2 separate regions of the Homo sapiens genome follow, and region 2 is linked to region 1. The links come from fine-mapping of genetic effects on gene expression. A gene starts in region 1. The other region holds a variant in brackets. All regions are shown on one strand. Distances are from middle to middle.

Region 1 (5,388 bases):
AAAATCTCTTGGCAAAACTGTGAAAAATGCATTTTCTCTCAATATAGAACATGTGCTATGTATTTCTTATATGATCTAAACTTTTTTTGGAAACTCATTTTTACTATGCTAAAGGGAACAAACCACAGGGCAGCAGATTCAAGAATGTCACCAGAAAGGTTCTTGATCTCAGAGACGGAGTGGAACAGAGCTTACCACCTGCCTTTTTTTCTCCTTAGAAGGGCGTTAAGGCCTCTGGGAACAGACCCCAATGACTGCTGCCCACCAAAGACCTACCAGATTACCCCCTCTAGGCTTCAAAAATGCTTAAAACTATGAGACTTGTAAAACTCTAGCCAGATTTTTTTGTAGAAATCAGGAGCTGCTATAGTTCATCATAGACACATATAGATATATCTGCTTACACATGCATGGAATATTTTGGAAGCATACATAAGAAAGTGTTAACATCTATGAGGGTGGACTACATAAGTGGGAATGTGGAGTGTCTGAGGGTCTTTCCTTCACACTCCTTTGCAACATTTGATTTTTTAAATTATATGTATGTGCTACTTTTCCAATAAAAACCTAACATAATAATTCACTTTATTTTCTAATATCTTTAATTTTAAAGGCCATTTACCAAATGTTAATTGCATTTACTATTAAATAGGGGAAAAATCAAGTTAATATTCTGTTGTCTCCCTCCTTTTTTGTCACAAAAAGAAACTTCAAAACAAAAGAGGCACCATTACTCAGCAATGACCCTTCTGAGAATATAAACCAGCATAGTACAATTCACAAGTGGCAAACTCAGTTGCAAGAATTTGTATATTCCTTATACTCCATTACTTTTGTTTTTTACAACATTATAGAGCCGTTTGCTCTTTATTGTCATATATTTTAAAGTCTCTTGCAGTGCCTGTTTTACACACACAGGACACCATGTAGTATCAATACAGTAGAATCCAAAATGTATGTGTTTCCTAATTGTGATGTTTTTTAAGTTTGAAAACAGTGTGCTTTCTGACCTGTGGGTTAAAAACAAAATAGTAATTTCCCTTTGTCCAAATTCACACCCAGAATAGAACACTCCTGTTACATAATCAAAAAGCCACAAAATAACAGAAACTACTACAAGCCATTTGTAATTACCACCCACTCTTCTTTATATATTATAGAAACCTCTCCACTGATTTTAAACTTCCATGTGTCAGTGTTGGGAAAAAGACTTTACTGGAGCCACATTCTGTGGTTAGTCTACCTAAGCTGGTGCTGGGAGCTTGCAACATGCGTGATGCACTGGTTACGCAGCTTAACCCTGAACAGAGCTTTTGAATATATTAGTGAACCCAATAAATTCAATAGTAAGTAAAAGTCCATCTTTCATTGTCATTGAGGGATGTGTGTGTGTGTATGTACACACACACATATATACTTACATATATACATACATACATATCGTTTTATACTGACTGCTCCACCAAAATCAATTTTAATCTGACATACATTTGATTGATTACTCACATGCATTTACACTGAGGCCCTTTTCCAGAGCCTGTGCGAGGGTTCTTTCCTAAATAACCTTACCCCAAAGTCATGCTCCCAAAAGAGGAAATCTCGAACAGAAGAAACAAGCCCCAAGTGGAAGGAAGATGGAAAGAGAAAGGGGAGGAAAGAGGTTTACAAATTCCTTGCCAAATGGATGGAGAGAAATTCTGTGAGGTGATTAGCGGGTCAGGAAGCGTTTTCCCTGGATGTGGTGGTAACCACAAGGACCAGTGATAATGCTTGGGGGATTGATTGCTTTCCGGTTGTGCTTTCTGCAGCGCAAAAACTCTGGGCTCTTGCATTGCTCTTTACTGTGATGCAGGGTCCACTTAAAACTCTGCCTCCCTACCGGGAAAGTTCACACATCTTGGGATTTCGGGATCATTTAAGTCTAGAGGGATTCTTTTTTTACACTTGAGAGTAAGCTGTGCATTTTCTTCATTGTATGGGAAAAGCTAACCCTTCATTGGAAAGCAATGCACAACCATCCGGTGGGTCTGCATTTATCCAGAGTTCTCCCTTCCTCCCTCCATCAACGGTTTAGTGAAGCTTGCAGAGAAAATGAGGGAAAGCATCCATCAGAACGCAAAGACGCAGAGCGGAACTTTTCCTCTGCCGTCAGTGGGGAGAAAAAGTCACTTGTGCGTCTCGTGGCTGACAGCTGAGTCTGGGAACCTCCGGATAAGGAAGGAAGGTTTGGCGTTGAAGGAGGTGGGAGAAAACAATGCTGAGCCCGGATGCCTCCGGACACCGCACATCCTGCCCGGGTCCCTGACCCACCCATCACCCACAGCCACGCTCCCGGTGCGGCGCGGCTTTGCTTACCTTGATGATGCTGCTGCGCCGGGGGGTCGCCCGTGCTGCCTCCAGGAGGCCCGCCTCGCTGTCCGCTGGGGTCCCCGCGGCGCCTGGCAGTGCGACCCCGCTGCGACGGTCCCTCATCCGGCCCCCAGAGGCCGCCGTCACGCAGTCCCCGGCGGCATCCGGGCCCACTCGGGGGTCGTCTTCGCCCCCCGCCGCGTCGGGCGGCGCCGGATCCTCCCTGCCGGCCGCGCCCTCGGCCATGGCCTGGAGCGTTTAGGGCTCCCCGGGGGAAAGCGGGACGCCCGGCAGCGGAGTCCAGCCGCTAGGCACCGGTGCGCTCCTGCACCGGGAGGCGGCCCCGCCAGACTTTGTTTCACCGCCCAGCGGCGGCAGTGGCGGCGGCGGCGGCGGCGGCGGCAACTTTCTGGAGAGGGGACATCGCTCGGGCAGAGACGTCCTCGGGCTTCGGTCTAGGAGGCTAGCAGTCCGGCGGGGGACGGTGGCGGGAGTGGGGAGGCGATGTGAGCGGGAGGCAGAAGGAGAGGCGAAAAAGAGAGGGAGGTATCCGAAATGTGATGCAAACGCCGGCCCTGCGCCAGACAAAAGGCACCGGGCGCCCAGCCAGGCGGCCTCTGGAGCCCGGACGCCGGCGGCCCGATAGGGGCCAGAGCCGGGCGACTGCGGCCGGGCGCACCCGCCACCTGCCCGCGGACTGCGGCGCAGCGGTCCCAGGAAGTGCGGCGGCGGCGGCGGCCTCCACTCAGCTCTGTTGTGACAGGGAGGGAGACTTGTTTTGACAGCCCTTGGGGATTGGCAGGCGTCTGGGCCTCTTAGGAGCCTCGCCTCGCCGAGGGGGCTCGGCCCGACCAATCCTCACTGCGGAGGGGTGTGCCCGAGCGCGAAGAATGGAATGTGTTCTGCAACTGGGAGCCGGCCCAGCGGGGCTAATGTACTCGAGCCAGGGTGTACCCGCGCGCGCGCGTGTGCAAACCCGGAGGCGCTCCGTGTATATTTTAGGAAGTTTAGATTTGCGAAATGAGCCTGAGATGCAACAAAAATCCAGGTTGGGTGAAGGAGAGGGGAGAAAGAAACCTTCTTCTGCCAAACAAAGCAATTTGGAGGAAAGTGGGTATTGAGTATGAATGTCTAAGCGTTTGGGGTGACGGGGTGAAGCTTTGCGTGGTCACAGGTTAATTGCAGGCTCTCAGGCCAATTCTTAGAAGTCAAGTCCATGCAGAGATAAACTAGGGTTTACTGGGATCTTGGGGTTCCATAATTTGCTTCAGGTTCCAGGAAAGGATTCTAAGGTCATTCTGCAGTGTGAGTAAATATAACAAGGAAAGGGAGTCAGTGAAAGAGATGAGGGTGAAAGGAAACTGAACCAACTAAATCCCTCCGAAGACTGACTCTTAAAAAGCACAGATATAATCCAAGTCAGATAAATGCAGGTGGGGAGTTTAGTCTCTATCCTAAAACATTCCTATTTGACAATGGTTCAGCCTCCTTTCTCTATATAATCCTATATAAAAACATATTTTGCTCATTTCCAGTAAGCTAGCAACCAAGAAGGGAGAGATCTTTGGATGATGAGTTAAGTCACTGAAATTATCCACAGAATGCTCAGATGCAAACCATGGTCCTAAGGCTCCCTGGTAAGACAAAAGACTTGGCATTTTAATTTTAAACTCCTTTGATATTAGAATCTATATTAAACCTCACTTATAACATTACATTTTATCTTATTAATAATTTAATAATTTGAGATTTTACTTGTTCCTTAGTCTGGCTAACAGCATGAGAAATTATTCAGCATTTTAGACCAACAATTTGGTTTGAATCTCATAATTTTAGAGATATATGGGGATTTAGGGATCAACTAGGACATCATTTTTGTTTTACGGTTGAGACAAAGGCCCAGGGAGTCTTGTCTACTAGTTAGTGCAGGAGCCAAAATTAGAATCAGCCACCCAACTCCTCCGATAATCTCTTCACTACTTTATCTGTCTCCTCTGGGCTACAACCAGCCAGAACTGGCAGGGGCACTTGGGAGGTTTCAGATTTGACATTTATCAACTACTAGGGAATACTGAGAAGGCTTGACTTTGCCTTTTCTTTAAACATAAATGCAGCCTAGTAATGAATGTACTGTAGAGAGTAGCAGTGACCTCTGGTTTTAGAACCAACACCACCCTCTAGTGAGATTCTGAGAACTGCATCCATAACAGCAAAGGCTTCTTTTTCCCCCTCATCTTTAAAAGACAGGAGGGGTAACCCAACAAAAGTTTCCTTTTCAACAGGTATGCCTTTACAACGCACAGACTAGAGGAAGAAAATAAAGTGTACCCAGACTTAAAACAACCATACATGTCTTCCATCTCCTTTAGTTCAGGGAATTCCTGTCTATGCTATATAGGAAATATTTTTAATTGCTATCCTCAGAAATATATCTTATTTTAGGCTATCATTTTTTTCTTTGATATTCAACTATTATTACATTTGACTTCTGTCATTTACAGTTGTCAGTGCTTCATTTTTCTTTGTTACTCTAATAAAAGTCCCATTCTTCGGTTGTCCTCTGAAAAATGTAAAACTGCCTTTATCTCACTCATTATCTTGTTATAGGATATTAATGTCATTTATAAGTTCCTCATCCTACAGATTTGTGTACCATTATGATAATAATTTATTTTTACAAATTTTAAAATTAGCATCACTTTATTAACAAACATTCAAGGTCAGTGATTTAAAAAAAAACAGAGGCCAGAAAGTACAGCATATAACTTGCAAAATGTTGTATCTTTCAACTAGACAATGTCTAGTTGGACTCTTTTCTCTTCCTTGGCATCCTTCCCTCTCACCCTCATGTGAAAGTGCACACACACACACACACACACCCCTCTGATTCCTTTGCTCTGAGCCTCTATCCGTAAAGATTGTTGTCTAAATTACTCTGCTTTGATAAACTAGTTGGACCCTAATCTAGCAAGTCGTTTATATTGTTGTGTTCCAGCATAAGCTCAGAAGGCTTTTCCTGATACTCATGTTTGCAATTGA
Region 2 (5,388 bases), 650 kb before region 1:
CAGTCAAGAAAAGAAGCAGAAGAGCTGAAACCATGATGAGAAAAATAATCTATCCATCAAAAGCGCCCAAGAACTGACACAGAAGCAAAGATAGTAAATCATTTATTATAACTATATTCCATAGGTTCAAAAAGTTATGTAGCGATATAGAAGATATAAAAAGACACAAATCAAACATGCAGAGGAAGCTACTATAATGTATGAAATTAAAAATTCACTAGATGGGATCAACAGCAGACTAGACATTGCAGAAAAGGTTAGTGAACTTGAAGACATAGTATTGGAACCTATATAAAATAAAAATTTTTAAAAAAAGAATATCAGTAAGCTGGAGAGAGAGAGAAAGGTGAAGACAGGAAGAATATTTGAAGAAATAATGGTAGAAATTTTTCCAAATTTGATGAAAATTATAAACCCATAAATCCAATTCAATGAAACTCAAGCACAAAAAAAAAGAAAAAAGCTACACAAAGGCATAGCATAATCAAATTGTTCACAACTTGTGATAAAGAGAAAATATTAAATTTGGCATCCAATAATAAATCACTGGTCAAGAAAAGAGAAAAAACAATTATTATACTAAGAAAATAAATAATATAGCAAATTTTATGTCAGAAACAAGGCAAGTGACAAGACAGTAGAACAACCTCTTTAAAATTATTAAAATAAAAAAGTCAACTTAGAATTCTATACCCAGTGAACGTATCTTTCAAAAATGAGGGTGAGGCCAGGCATGGTGGCTCACGCCTGTAATCCTAGCACTTTGGGAGGCCGAGGCAGGTGGATCACTTGAGGGCAGGAGTGTGAGACCAGCCTGGCCAACATGGTGAAACCTCATCTCTACTAAAAATATAAAAATTAGCTGGGCGTGGTAGTGGGCACCTGAAATCCCAACTACTCAGGAGGCTGAGGCAGGAGAATTGCTTCAACCCAGGAGACAGAGGTTGCAGTAAGCCGACACGGTGCCACTGCACTCCAGCCTGGGTGACAGAGTGAGATTCTGTCTCAAAAAATAAAAATAAAAAATAAAAAAATAAGGTAAAATAAAGACTTTTTCAGATGTATAAAAGCCGAAAGAATTCATCATCCATGAACCTATCCAATAAGAACTATTAAAGGAAATATTTCAAATAAAAGGGAAAAATACCAGATAGAATATAAATATAGACAAAGGTATAGAGCACTAGAAATTTTAACTACAGAGGTAAATATATAAACATCTTTAAAAGACAATAGACTCTTTAAATGAAAGCAGTAAGAATGTGGTTTATAACATATGTAAAAGTTAAATATGTGACAATAGCACAAAGGTCAGGAGGAGAGAAATGGAAAAGTACTATTATAAGTATTGTGAGCTATACATGAAACGGTATAGCATCACTTAAAAGTAGATGTGATGCTAAACATAAATACCACAAAGCTCAAAGAAACCATCAAAATAATAAAAGAAATAGTTATGTCTAATTAGTTACTTATGAGATGAAAATCAAATAAAAAAGAATTAAAATAATCTAAATGAAAACAGAAAACAGGAAAGGGAAAATAGAAGAGAAGCGACAAATAGAAAACAAATTACAAGATCATAGACTCAAACCTCATAATCACCTTAAATATGAATGTAAACATTAATACTCCATTAAAAAGCAGAGGCCTTCAGATTGGATTTTTTTTTAAAAAAAAGAAGCAATTATATGCTGCCCACAAGAAATACGCTTCAAATATGAAGACACAAACAGGTTAACAATTAAAATAGGGGTAAAGAAAAATCACATGTACAATAAACAAAAGAAAGCTGGAGTGTCTGACATAATATCAGTTAAAGCATATATCTGAATAAAGGATATTACCAAGGACAAAAAGAAGATCATTTCATAATAAAAAAGAAGTCACTTCATCAAAATAACCTAACAGTCCTAAACATTTATGCACCTAATATCAGAGCTTCAAAATACCTGAAGTAAAAACTGATAGAACTGAAAACAGTATAAATAGATAAAGGCCACAATTATAGTCAGATACTTTAATACTCCTTCTCAATAATTGATACAAGTAGATAGAAAGTTGTTATGAATAGAGAAGATGGAAATAGCACAATAACTAATTTGACCTTATTGACTTATAAAGAACACTCTACCTAACAGCAGCAGAATACACATTCTTCTCAAGTGCACACAGAACATTTATTAAGGTAGATCATACTCTGGGAATAAAGAAGCCTCAATAAACTTAAATCATTCAAATTATACAAAGTATGTTCTCTGACCACGATGGATTTAAATTAAAAATCAGCAATAGAAAGCTATCTAGAAAAACCTCAAATATTTGGAAACTAAATAATATACTTCTTTATAACCCATGGGTCAAAACCAAAATAAAAAAGGAAAATTATAAAATATTATGAATGAAAACAGCAACACAGCATATCAAAATTAATGGGAAATGACTAAAGAAGTTTAGGGAGAAATTTGTAGCATTAATTAAATATATATATTCCTTTCTGTAGAAAGTTGGAGACTCAGAGGTCTTTTTACATTTCAAACAGCCAGTCTCTTTTCTGTTCCAAGCTTGTGGTGATGTTGCTTATAGATCTCTCTTAAAACCTTTGTGGATTTTTACATATATGATTTCTATCAACTGCATGTACCAAAGCCACACCCATGATTCTTTTTAAGCCATATTCTGTATTTATGGGCTCTTGGAATGAGTCAAACATTTCTGGGATCATTTCTTGGGCTCTGATGGACCCCTTTTGTCCTGTGAGAAATCTACTAGATATCATTCTAATCCTTTTGGCAAGCTTAACAGAGGGTGTTTCAGCTGCACTCTTGGCTTGATCATGTCTAACTGGCCATGTCTTTCTGGCAGCACCCCAGATTTAGTCTTCAACTAGTGATTGTGTTAAAATACCCAATTTTGTTATAATTGATTTGGTGAGAAACAATTTTCTATTTTAAATTTGCAATTTCTTGGCTCTTTACATTCCCTCTAAATTCTGCATG[T/C]AAATTGACCAGTCCTTTTCTAAGCTCATTTCTTTCTTGTGGTATTTTATCAAATTCAGTTCAAAACAGCCAGTTGATATCTTCAACACTTCTCCTGATACCTCCTAACCAAACTTTGCAGGTTCATTAGATACATTTTCTTTATATGACAGACAATAGTTTTACCAAAATACTTGCCACTGCAAAATATGGATTGCTACTTTTCCGTTTTATTAAGGTTTCCACATCATTCCTCCACCTAGACCTAAATCAAATGCCATATATTTCAGTGTTTTTATGACAGTACCCCACCTCTTGGTATCAGTTTCTGTATCAGCCACCTTTTTTGAATGAAAGATACTGCAACATTTTAGTGGCACTTAGCAACTTAAGTTATTTCTTGACTGTGCATCTGCAGGTGGCTGGGCAGCCCTGCTTCAAGAAGCGGGTGTATATGTTAGTTTGGGTGACTCTGCCCCACATGACTTACTCTGGTATCCAGGGAATGTCATCCTCATGGCTGTATCAGAAGCACAAGAAAGCAAGCCCAACTGCATCAGTACAATTCAAGCCTCTGCTCACATTGTACCCTTAACGTCCCAGTGGCCAAAGCAAGTCACAGGACAAAGTTCAAGCTCGAGGGGTGAGAAAGTATATTTCACCCACTTTGAGGCCTAGACCAAAGGGATATATGGTATTATTACAGTGGAGTGAAGCTTTAGGGCCAACAATTTCATTAGTTGTAAGGAGAGGAGGGAAAAGAGAGTAGAAGGAAAGAAGTAGAAGAGGTTGTCTGGAGGGAGAGACTAGAGACAGAGAAGGGGAAGGAGAGAAAGGATATGAGGGAAAGGGAACAAGCTTTCTATTAACGCCTCTGTTCAATGCTAGCTCTTTTTCTTGTCCCCCCTTTACCTGCTGTATCTGATCCTGGAACCTCTTGGGTTGTGGTGAGATCATAGGCCTTTTTCTCTGCTTAAAAGCCTCTTCTATATGTTCTGCATTGCTTCTTGTTCAAACGATATGATATGCCAGGAGATTTCCAAAGTCTTTCCATATTCCACCCCTCCGTGCTATTTAACCAGGGAAGACCAGGAGGCAGTTACACCTGAACTGACTTATATAAGAGTGCCAGAATTGAAGGAGGCAAAGAAAATTACTGGAAGATAGGTAGATAAGGAGCAGATCATGAAGTACTTTGAAAAACATCTAATAAGAATTTATATTTTACTCTGTATGTAGGCAAGGCCATTGAAAGGATAAGACCACAGATTTATAGGACATTTGTATTTTAGAAAAATAGTCCTGAAGATATCTAATTAAACATGGCAGGATAAAACCAGAAATTTACCTTAGTTCCTTCCCAAAGCTCTACTGAAAGAAATGAAACTTCTATAATCACAGAAGATCAAAACAACTGGAGAGGCAATGATAGATACTACAAAAGATGGAAAGAAGTTCATCAAGTGGTTGCTGGCTTAAAAAAAAAAAAAAAAGGAAAGGGATTAAAGGGACAAAGAAGGAGAATCAACAAAATGAAAAAGGACCAGCACTACAGAGCCTGGAAAGGACGTTAAGGAAAGCAGCCAGGTACTTCTAGGAATAGGAATGGAGGCTGCAAACAAAAATGGGAGGATTGGTGGAAACTAGGAAGAGAGATCCCCATTCACCATCTCATTGAAAGCCAGGAAAACAACTCTCAAACAAACCAACCAACCAAACAAACAAACCAACAAAAAACCCAAGCATCTTGCACCCAGGAGAGAGAAGATCAACTCCCTGGAAAAAAAGAAAAGACAACTCCTATCCTGGAGACACTAGGCATGCAGAAGGCTACAGGGAGGCAACACACTAAAATAAAGGAGATTGAATAAAAACCTGTTTTCTAAACCCTGGCTTATATCTTCTAAGCATCAGTTTGAAAGGTTAGAGAAACCAAGACTATTTAGAGAACACAAAAACTCAAGAAAAAAAAAGATGCACTCAGAGTCTCAAATTTGGCAGAAGTCAAGAAAGAAAATTTAAGAATATCCTTGGAATGTGAGAGTGAGAAAGCCATTTGCACCTTAAAAATAAAAAGAAAGGAAAAGAAAGATAAAGAAACTGGGTTTTGGGGACAATATTTTAACCCTAAGGAATTTCTAATATGGCATGTCTATCACTGTGACTCACGGGCTGCAAAAAAAATGTGAGCAAGAAGACATTCCTGGAATCGTCCCATCATGTAACACAGATGACCACCCACTCTACATATGTGAAAAACAAGTCATAGGCAGGAATTCTAGTGAGCCAAACTTTTTTAAATTTAATCTTTAAACAACCTTGAAATTGATAGCCTAAAATTTAGGTCCTAAATTATCTAAAGATGCAGAAATATATAGATAAAAGACCAGCATGTTTGAGGTGACTTAAT

Direction of the effects. Positions count from the first base shown, and alleles are read on the strand shown. Sizes are in standard deviations (SD) of each study's normalised expression.
With allele C in place of T in region 2, the expression in prefrontal cortex of the gene that starts at base 3,102 in region 1 is higher (moderate effect, 0.46 SD a copy in GTEx).

Evidence for each region. PIP is the estimated chance that this variant, and not a neighbour inherited with it, causes the effect.
Region 2: its variant is fine-mapped to the expression of PLCL1 in prefrontal cortex (GTEx, PIP above 0.99).

What each region holds. Positions count from the first base shown.
Region 1 is chr2:197,802,307-197,807,694 of GRCh38, reverse strand. It overlaps PLCL1 (phospholipase C like 1 (inactive)), which reads right to left and starts at 3,102. Exons shown (of 6, transcript NM_006226.4): 1 at 2,356-3,102. The coding sequence starts at 2,595. It overlaps LOC105373828 (a long non-coding RNA gene), which reads left to right and starts at 3,149. Exons shown (of 4, transcript XR_001739850.3): 1 at 3,149-3,986. RefSeq lists a silencer at 2,926-3,055.
Region 2 is chr2:198,456,403-198,461,790 of GRCh38, reverse strand. No RefSeq gene overlaps it. Among named protein-coding and RNA genes, the nearest start is that of LINC01923, 84 kb to the right of the region's middle. The variant T/C (reference allele first, on the strand shown) is at 3,000.